Linked DNA regions of Homo sapiens: all the other regions are reported to be linked to region 1. The links are microRNA targets in miRTarBase. Many come from high-throughput screens and were not tested one by one. Region 1 holds a microRNA gene; each other region holds the end of a gene's coding sequence. Distances are from middle to middle.
Evidence for each region. Region 1 holds the annotated microRNA hsa-miR-4310 (GCAGCAUUCAUGUCCC, at 1,049-1,064, opposite strand). A microRNA usually pairs through its seed, bases 2 to 8, with sites in the 3' UTR of a target mRNA and lowers its output. Matches are read on the target gene's strand: a 7mer-m8 pairs with bases 2 to 8, a 7mer-A1 pairs with bases 2 to 7 and ends in A, and an 8mer does both.

Region 2: miRTarBase lists KLHL30 as a target of hsa-miR-4310. Seed matches in the 3' UTR shown: 8mer at 1,147-1,154.
Region 3: the mRNA of ARIH1 is a reported target of hsa-miR-4310. Seed matches in the 3' UTR shown: 7mer-m8 at 2,404-2,410.

Annotation. Positions count from the first base shown.
Region 1 is chr15:41,865,457-41,868,537 of GRCh38, forward strand. MIR4310 (microRNA 4310) reads right to left here and starts at 1,095; the gene lies at 1,039-1,095. It overlaps SPTBN5 (spectrin beta, non-erythrocytic 5), which reads right to left. Exons shown (of 68, transcript NM_016642.4): 33 at 2,942-3,081; 34 at 2,613-2,762; 35 at 2,082-2,186; 36 at 1,503-1,670; 37 at 888-1,037; 38 at 582-773; 39 at 352-447.
Region 2 is chr2:238,150,497-238,153,577 of GRCh38, reverse strand. KLHL30 (kelch like family member 30) reads right to left here. Exons shown (of 8, transcript NM_198582.4): 8 at 631-2,764. The coding sequence ends at 2,513. Among named protein-coding and RNA genes, the nearest start is that of ERFE, 6.9 kb to the left of the region's middle. RefSeq lists an enhancer at 1-296.
Region 3 is chr15:72,582,794-72,585,874 of GRCh38, forward strand. It overlaps ARIH1 (ariadne RBR E3 ubiquitin protein ligase 1), which reads left to right. Exons shown (of 14, transcript NM_005744.5): 14 at 415-3,081. The coding sequence ends at 499. Among named protein-coding and RNA genes, the nearest start is that of MIR630, 2.9 kb to the right of the region's middle.

The DNA of each region.
Region 1 (3,081 bases):
TGACGTTGGTGTAATACTACCAACTAGACCAGACCTCATTCAGATTTTATTAGTTTTTGCAAGTATGCATCTGTGCGGGGCAGTGGGGGATAGGTCTATGCAGTTTTATCACAGCTAGAGATTCACGTACCTGCCACCACACACGTGCTCTCTTACCTCTGAGGTGGGTGCTACCCCCATTCTAAAGAGGAAGGAGTGAAGGCGGGTGAGAGGAGGGAGCCTGCCCGAGGGCATAGGAGGAGCAGGCATGGCGCCCACGCCCTGCTCTACAGCCCACACTCTTTCCCTGCTCTCAGTTGGATTTTCAGTGCGGGATGCATGGCCAACCTCTACCCAGCAAGGCCCTCTTACCCCGGCCGAGTTTCCTCGGAACTCGCGGAGCCGCCGTCGGAGCTGCAGGCAGTGCTCCAGGTCCTGGCCCAGGTCACCAACATTCATCTTCACCTCCTGTGAAGGCCGAGGGTGGGGAGGGAGCGCTGTGAGCACCAGCCCAGGCTCCTGGCACCTGCTGCTGGGGATCCCTCCTGTCAAGGGAGGGCTCCTCCCCCCATCTCTCAGCCCCCACCCAGCTGGGGCTACACCTTCTCCTGGATCCAGGCCTCTGCAAGGTCCACTCTCTGCAGGAACTCCAGGAAGTTCCGCCTGTCCTCCAGCTCCTGGCCCCTGAGGGCCATTGCCTGCCTCAGGTCCTCCCAGTGCTTCCGCAGGCCCTGCAGCCGCTGGGAGACCTCTCCGGCTCGAGGGTGACTCTGTGCCAGGAGAGCCTCTCCCTTCTGGAGGGAGAGAGGGGACACAGGACATCTTGCCTGCTGCACTTCCTCCTAAGACTGACATTGCCCCTGGGCCACACTTTGGGGCAGGCATGGGGCTGAGGGCCCGGTTGTTACCTTGGCAACAGAGGTCATGACCTCCTCATGGGCCTGGACTTCAGCCTCAAAGGCCTGGTGTTTCAGCAGGGGCTTCAGCTTATCTCTCAGGTCCCCAGGAGGGACCGGCTCCTTCAGCTGCTGGGCCCACGCCTGGATCCAGTCCTCAGCCTGGTGGGGGTGGGACATGAATGCTGCAATGTTCTGCAGCCTCAGGCCCCAGACGCCACAGGCCTAGCCCCCAGCCATTCCCAGGAGGCTGGCCTCAGGGGTGGGGCGGGCAGCACCTGGTAAATGAGCCCTGAAGGTTCCAGCTCCGGAAGGTTGCTGCAGGAGGCAGCCGGGCAGGGCCTTGGGTGGGCTCTCGTTTTGGAGGTGTGGCCCCTACTCCTGGGGCCCTGGGCTGCTCTGCTCCCTTCCCCACCTCTCTTGCCCTGGCGCTGCTAGAGCTCGGGACACTGGTGAGGTCTCCACACAAAGGGGCTTAGATCCCATGTTCTGGGCTCCAGCACAGCCTCTGGGAAAGCCATCCACCCCCGAACCTGTTTCCGCCTCACAGTGTTGCGGTGTGAAGGCGGCTGAAAACTGTCGAGTGTGGTTCCAGTGGAAGGCCCTGGGCTGGGGGTGCCCTCTGACCTGGGTTGCGGCCTGGGTGAAGCTGGCCATCAGCAGGGAGGCATGCAGGGCGTGTCCCCGGCTCTCCGCCAGCTCCTTCACTCTCATCCGGCGCTGCAGCAGGATGGGAAGCCGGTCCCGCACCCGGGGGCGCCGGAGCGTCTTCAGCCGCTCACGCAGGGCTGCCTCCTGTGGGGCAGGGGCACAGCTGCTGCTCTCCCACCCTGGGCTGGGGCAGGGCCTGGCCTGCAGGGCTCACAGTCCTTTCTTTGAGGGCCCCGGAGCCCTTTCCTCAGCCCCACATGGCTGAGGGGTATCTGATCCTCCCAGCCACAAGCCAGACCAGTCTGCTCCCCAAGGACCACACGGTGTGGACAGAGCCAAATGCCCCGTGTGGGTCTCTGCAGTGTGGCCCATCTCCCCCTGGGCCCTCTTCTTGAGCCACACATACAACTTGCTCAGTCAACCCCAACCAGGACCCCAGCCTTGCAGGCTCATCAGCACTGCCTCCAGGAACACACCAAGCGCCCCGTGACCCCCTTCAGGACTCTCTCCCAACCACCACACTCTGACCACGCCCAGGCCTCCTGACTCCATTACCTTCTTGTCCTGGGCAGTCAGAACCTTCAGGAAGACCTCGTGCTTGCGAATCAACTGCTCTACCTCTTCCACCGAGCTCCCCAAGGCACTGGTTTTCAGGGAGACCTGGATCCACAGAAAAGTCAGAGGCCACCAAGCCTTCCAGCCAGCCAGCCCCTCCAGCTGCAGTCTGTGCCCATGGGCACTCTGGGTATGGCAGGGCCTTAGGAGTGCCCACTGAGCTTGGCATGGAGCTGTGAGGAGTGGGAGTCCAGGTTGGGAGGCTGCGATACCTCAACCTCTGCACCATGTGGGGAGCATGACCAGCCTCTGGCCAACTTCCTCGGGGCTCAGTCTGGGATAGGGGCTGGGGATGTCAGTGGACGCTCAGGGGCCTCAGCACTTCACCATGGCCACCTGGAAGGACTTGTGCACAGCTGCCTCATATTAGAGAAAAAGCCAGAGAGGCAGGAGGAAAGGGACTGAGCAGAGAGGAGAATAGAAAGGAGGAGCAGGAGGCTGAGCGGAGTGTGAGGGCGGGAGGGGACCTGCCTCCTGGGCCGCGAGGATCTCCTCCAGGCGGCCGCACTCTCTGAGGAAGAGCTGCTCCTGCTGCTCGGCCTGCAGCCTCTCTTGCTTCCGTGCCCAGGTCTGATACACCTGGTCCCGCTGGTCCTGCAGGGCTCGAAGCTCTTCCTGGACCTGGGGATGGACACATGAGGAGCCTCAGCTGGGGAGGGTGGTGTGGGTGAGGTGAGGACTGGATCCTGAGGGAAGCTCCTGAGGAGAGGCCAGCATGGCACAGTAGGACGGGGCACCAGGTGGCCAGGCACAGGCTTGGTCAGCTAGGGTATGTGGGGGCACCAGGGGAGGGGGCCCACCTCCTTGGTGGGTGTCCCTGCAGCAAGAAGTGCCTGCTGCCCCAGCTGGGTGGCCTGCTGCCACAGCTTCTCCCGGGCCTCCAGCTCCGCCCGGAGCCACTGGTGGGCACTGAGCTTCAGCGGGCCACTGCTAGGCTCTT
Region 2 (3,081 bases), not on the chromosome of region 1:
CCCTGGCCACCTTCTCCACCTGTTCTGTGTCCCCAGGTGGCCACTACAGCCTGTCAATGGCCTCTCTTCCCTCTGGGTTCTGGTTGGGCTTGGCCTGTAGGAGGCGCTAGTGGGAGACAGGGGGCAGGCCAGAGAGAGAGGGCAGATGGACTCTGCCACCTCCTCCCAGCTGGACAACAGGGGTGGTGGCTGCGTTCCCCCGCCAAGGCCCTCTCTCAGCAGCTCCCTGGAGTCTGCGTCTGCCCTTTCCCTTCTCCCAAGACGGGGTGGGGGGGGTGGCACTCCCACTGCTGCTGTCCTGGGATGCCTCTCCAGCCACTGGGCTCCCTTCACCCTGCCCACAGCATGGGGAGAGGCCGTCGTGAAACTCTCCTTAGCCACTCACCTCAATACCCAGCAGACGCCCCTTTCCTCCTGGTGCCCTGAAGGCTGCGATGGCCCCCTGAATCAGGAGCCCAGCTGATCGGACGAGGTGCACTTTGGCACCTCAAAGCTGGGAGCCAGGCCCTGGAGAGGCCCACTCCTTCCACCCGAGGACCGCCCATATTCCCATAGGGTGTGCAAGGGTGGACAGCAGGCGTTGCTCTGGCACGCCGCCCTTTTGGCTACTTTGTGATCAAAGCCAGCCTATTTTGACATTTCATGTCTTCAGTTTTATTTTTATTTATTTTAAAATATTCTTGCAGAAATGGTTTACATGGAGGCTTTGTTTTTAAACAGCCCTTTGGCTGACCTCCTTCCATCACTGTCTAGAAAACATTTCAGATTTCCACATGGAAACAGAGCCCAGGGCCCCAGAAACCCTCACCCTTGCTTCATCCAATCCATCTGCCACCGAAGGTCTCCTCAGCTCTGGGCTCTTGTTCCTTTGGTAGCACCCAGAGGCCCCACTCTGTCTGGCCCTCCAGGGTCAACTCACTTCTCCCACACCTTGTAATCCCAGCACTTTGGGAGGCTGAGGCGGGCGGATCACCTGAGGTCAGGAGTTCAAGACCAGCCTGGTCAACATGGTGAAACCCTGTTTCTACTAAAAATACAAAAATTAGTCAGGCGTGGTGGCGAGTGCCTGTAATCCCAGCTACTTGAGAGGCTAAGGCAGGAGAATCTCTTGAACCCGGGAGGTGGAGGTTGCAGTGAGCCAAGATCTCAGCATTGCACTCCAGCCTGGACGACAAGAGCGAGACTCCGTCTCAAAAAAAAAAAAAAAAAAAAAAAAAAGCTATGAGAGGCAGGTCTGGGAGCAAAGCAGATCCCTACCTACAGAAGCTCAAGAGGCTCAGGGGTTTCCGTCCTCAGAACCCAAGGATGTCAGAGGCCCCTCTGGTCCCCAGGGGCGGGGGGTGTTAAGGAGGAACCCAGGGGCTGGTCCTGGAGAGGAAGCCTGGATCCGGCGGGAGACCGGAGCTGCCCAGGGCCTCTGGGGCAACACCAGGGCCTGTGCCTGGCCGGGCCCGACTCCTGACTTCTAGCCCCATGTCCCAGGGCGGAGCCTGTGACAGGAGGGACACGCCATTGGGCACCCAGGGAGAGTCCTTCATTGTCTCCTTAGCTGCAAAGGTGGGTGCCTCATTCAGGATGAGGGAGAAGCCACTCGGAGCCTGAGCCAGCCGGAGTCGGGCTGCATGCTGGCAGGGGCCCATCGGATGCTACCCCTCACCCTCAGGAGGCTGCCACCAATGCACCCAAGAGTCGTCCCCTGGTGGGAAATTCCATTCTAATGAAGAGCCTTTGTTCTGACACACAGAGACGGAGGCAATCCCTTCTGAGAGCAAAACTGCTCACCTCCCTGGGACCCTCCAGCCCCGCCCCACGCCCTGCCTCCCTCCTTCCTGGTGCCTCTGTGGGCACCGCCCTCTGGGTGCAAGAGATGGGTGGGGGCCTCCTTTGTCCACAGAAGCAGAAACACAGCACCAACATGCAAAGCCTGAGTGGGGACCCAAAGCCCACACAGCCAGCCCCGTGTGTGGTGGACGCGGAGCTTGAAGCCCAGAGAGGGGAGGTGGCTGGCCACAGTTACGCTGCCGTGAGCTGGGCAGAAGCAGGCCCACGAGGACCTGGTGCTGATCCCATCTCCGGGGCCTGCCTTCCCCAGCAGCCTCAGCTTTCTGGGACGCTCCGTGTTCACCCCACATTCATGCAACTGCTCCAAAAGCCCCTGCTGGGGTCCAGGGGCAGGAGTGGGGCTCGCAAGCTCTGGGAATGCTGGCCCGGCCCCCGGCTCCCCTCTCTGAGGTCTCGGGAACCCCAGGGGCAGCAGAGCTTCCTGTCCCTGTTATGCCAGCGTCTGGCACTCAGGCCCTTGTCACTGCTCAGCTCAGAGTTTAGTGTGGTGGCCACAGAGACCAAGGCTGTGTCCTCCAAGCCATGCCGTCTGATCACCCCTGGTGGCCTGAGCGCAGCTTGGAAGGAATGGTAGCTCCGAGTGAACAAATAAGCGAAAATGAAAGGGGCCGTTCCACAGGCTGATGAGGGGCCGCTGTGGGGACTCCTCCCCGGGGACCCTGGCCCTGGTTTAGTGCTCCTGGGTGGGGCCGGAGGGCTGGGTCCACTTGGAGACATCCAGGAAGACGGTGGAGGCCCCGTGGTAGAGCCAGAGCCGGGGCAGGGCGCCGTGGCGGGTCCAGGTGTCCCGAACCGTGTCGTAGGCCTCCATCTCCACGTGGTAGTCACCTTCCATGCCCTGCCAGCGGCCGCCCGTCACGTACAGCGCATCACCCAGTGGCACCAGCGCGCCATTCTCATGCAGGCTGTGCTGTGACTGCACCTGTGCACGGTCAGCGGGTTAGCGTCCGGTGGGCGGGAGCTGGAGAGCAGGGCTGAGGGTGCCCTCAGCAGGGTCGGGGGAGTGGCAGAGAGGACAGCCAGCCACCTGGCCCAGATCCCCTCCAGGGCATGAGCGCAGAGTCCCTGGGCAGCCCACCGCAGCCCCTCCAGCCTCCTCAGACTCTTCTTTTGGTGGGGAGGTCCCTTTCCCTCTCTGACCCTCAGCCCTTGGGATGACACTTCCAACCCCTGCAGTCAGAGGGGGCCCTGAGGCCTCCCGGGGAGGTCCGGGCTGACTCGAGGCCTCACTGAGGCTTC
Region 3 (3,081 bases), 31 Mb from region 1:
TCTTCCCTTCCCTTAGCCAATTTTAGCTACCATATTTTGTTTACAGTACTTTTACAGTTGACAGAGATTTTAAGGACGTGAATAAAGAACCCATGAAATTATTTCTGAACCTGTTTATCTGCAGAACTGTGGGATTGAATTATGATTTCTAAGGTCCATCAGAACTTGTAACACTTTATTGCTTTAAAATTAATTCCCATGGAATCATGGCTTTCAGAAAATACCATTTTAATATTAGAAGCAGTTTGATGTGTCTGTACATCTAGACCTGAACATGTGCCTATTAAAATAAAAAATAGGTGCTTGGTTCCGAGTCTGGATAAACTATAGGGATGCCTTAAAAATAAGTAAATGCCTCTTTTTTTATTATTAGAGGCTGACAACAAGTTTTTTTTTTTTTCTCTTTGATTACAGATACTGTGAGAGTCGACGAAGGGTTTTGTTACAGCATGTGCATGAAGGCTATGAAAAAGATCTGTGGGAGTACATTGAGGACTGAGAATGGCCCTGCATAAAATGAACTCTGAAAACTTTACCATCTAGAGTGCTCATGCAATTAAAACAAAACAAACACAAACAAGGAGGCACTAAGCCTATTCTGACACCACTGGTCTGTAGTACCAGAATTGTTTTGTTAATGGAAAGTTTAAGTAAATTATATTGTAATAAAAAGGTAGATAAACCATTGTACAACAGTATTCTAGGCCACCAACAAAAGTGTGACAGACACACTAAAAGCCCTCCAACTTTAACTTGTAACGTAGCTTCATTCTCAAAGCTGACTCCTTTTTTTTCTTTTTCCTTTTCCTGAGTGTAGTACAGTTAAAATTTCAAACAGCTCCTTGACACTGCTTTTCATGTTCAAACCAGCCATTTTGTTGTACTTTGGTAAAGGACCTCTTCCCCTTCCTCCCCTACACATACAGATACACCCACACACAGACTGACTCTCTTTCTCTCATACCCCAAGGTCATGAGTGAATGATGCTTAGTTCCTTGTAAAGAAAATCTTGGGATGGGGAAAGGGGTAGGCAGCAAGAGGATTCAACAAACGAAAAACATAAAAACTTTGTATATGACTTTTAAAACAAGAGGACAACACAGTATTTTTCAAAATTGTATATAGCGCATATGCATGGACAAAGCAAGCGTGGCACGTGTTTGCATAATGTTTAATTACAAAAAAATATTTATTCTTTAAAAATCTTCAAGATTATGTCTATTTGCTGTGCATTTTCTTTCAGTTTGCTTATCTTTCCCGGGTTGGGGTTGGGATAAAGGTGTGTCGGTTTAGCACCTCTGGAAGACCTATCTAGAGCTCTTTCACTTTCCTGAGGTTATTTTGCCCTTTCTGGTGTTGGTATGTCTGTTGCCGGCCATGGGCCTCATGCCTTGAATTCCTGCTCTTGATCAGGGACAAGGGAGGTCAAGCTCTGACTAATGCCATGACCTGATTAAGGGGTACAGCAGGGAGTTTTGTTGCTACAGCTCATGAATTAACCTGTCCCAACCTAATCCCCCTCCATGGCATCATGCCTCTACCCAAGCCTTTGTGTGCCCATGTTATGCACACAGCTGTAGGCATTCTTAAGTCCCCTGTCGCATCCAGTGGAAGCATTTTAAAATTTCTTTTACTTTTTGGTTTTCCCTTAATTGCTGCTTTTCAGATTTTAGTTATGGCTCGTCTGCTCACCCCTTCTCTACATTAGGGTGTCAAAGAGAATGTTTTGCTTTAAATATAAATAGCCATTCATTTAGTCTCAGATTGTGAATTTAAAATGGTGGATACCGAAATTGCTTGTGTGTGTTGCTGTGGGTTTGGTTTGAAGGCAAACACCCCTAGAACATGATATTCCCATCTAGTGCATTTAAATAGAAATCACTGAGTTTGCTGCTTTTTTATTGTCAGCAGATAGGAGAATTAATAATGCATTTTAGCTGTGATGTCCATTTTTATGAAATTCCTACTAAGAGCTATGTTAAAAGTAAAGGATGGTGGTGGTTGTATTAACTATATACCTGTTTAGGCCATTCTGGCTGTGGTATTTTTCAATAGGTCAGCATCTGTAAATCTGTCAGTTTTATACAGGAGTGCAGAGTGAACTAGGCAACTAGATTAAGAGGTCTAAATATGAAATACCAGTTGAGGCTGAGGACCTCTTCGTCTTCCTTTAAATGTCTTTTGCCTAGGGAGTGTTTACCATTTGTGAGGCAGCTTTGTCTGCTCTTACACTGTACATCCTATTACTCCATTGGGAAGTAGGTTCACTTTCCTCTGGCCTTTTGCCTAAGTTAGGCTTTGCTGAATCAACCCTACTTTTCCTTTTAGAAAAGGTTGTTACAGGAGATTTACTGGCAACTGTTCTTTTCCCATCAAAAATCAGTGAATGTTTGCTGAGTATAAATGCTGCTTCCTTAAACCACTTGTCGCTTTAGGATCAACTTTACCTGTACCTTTTCTCCTTTCCTCCCTTGCCACCTCAGGTGCAAATCTGAACTCAGTGTCTGCTTCTTCCATTTTCTCGTCTCTCTCCCCTCTTCCCCCATTATCCATATGACATTATTTTACTTCAAATGACAGCATCAATCTTAAAAAGATATACATTAAAACTAAGGAGTTTTTTTAAAGAAAGCCTGAATAAGTTCCTTTCCCTGGTAACTTTGAAAAGCAGTCAGAGTTGCTATATAGATATATGTGGCTCCTTTAAAATGCTTTGTGTATGTGTGGTGTTTAAAAAAAAAAAATCTTACCAGTTAACTTTGCAGTGTCTAGGTTTGAGTGTCATAAATCCACGTGTTCCTGTTGCAACAAATACCCAAAAATTGTGTGTGCACTTCCTAATACCAGTCTTCACCCATGGAGGAACAGTGCTTTTTAGAGATGCTTTCTATTTCAATGTTGGCATACTGCCTGAGGGTATTGCAGTTGTGGGTGCATTCCCTAATTTGTATGATCAAGATGAACTGGCCCTTTTCTACTTCCAAGCTTTTAACAGATACCACCATATTTGACAGAATTCCCAGAGTGAATTGCTTGTGTTATTAGTAGATTCAGTGCCCCCAGCTGGGATAGGCAAGCCA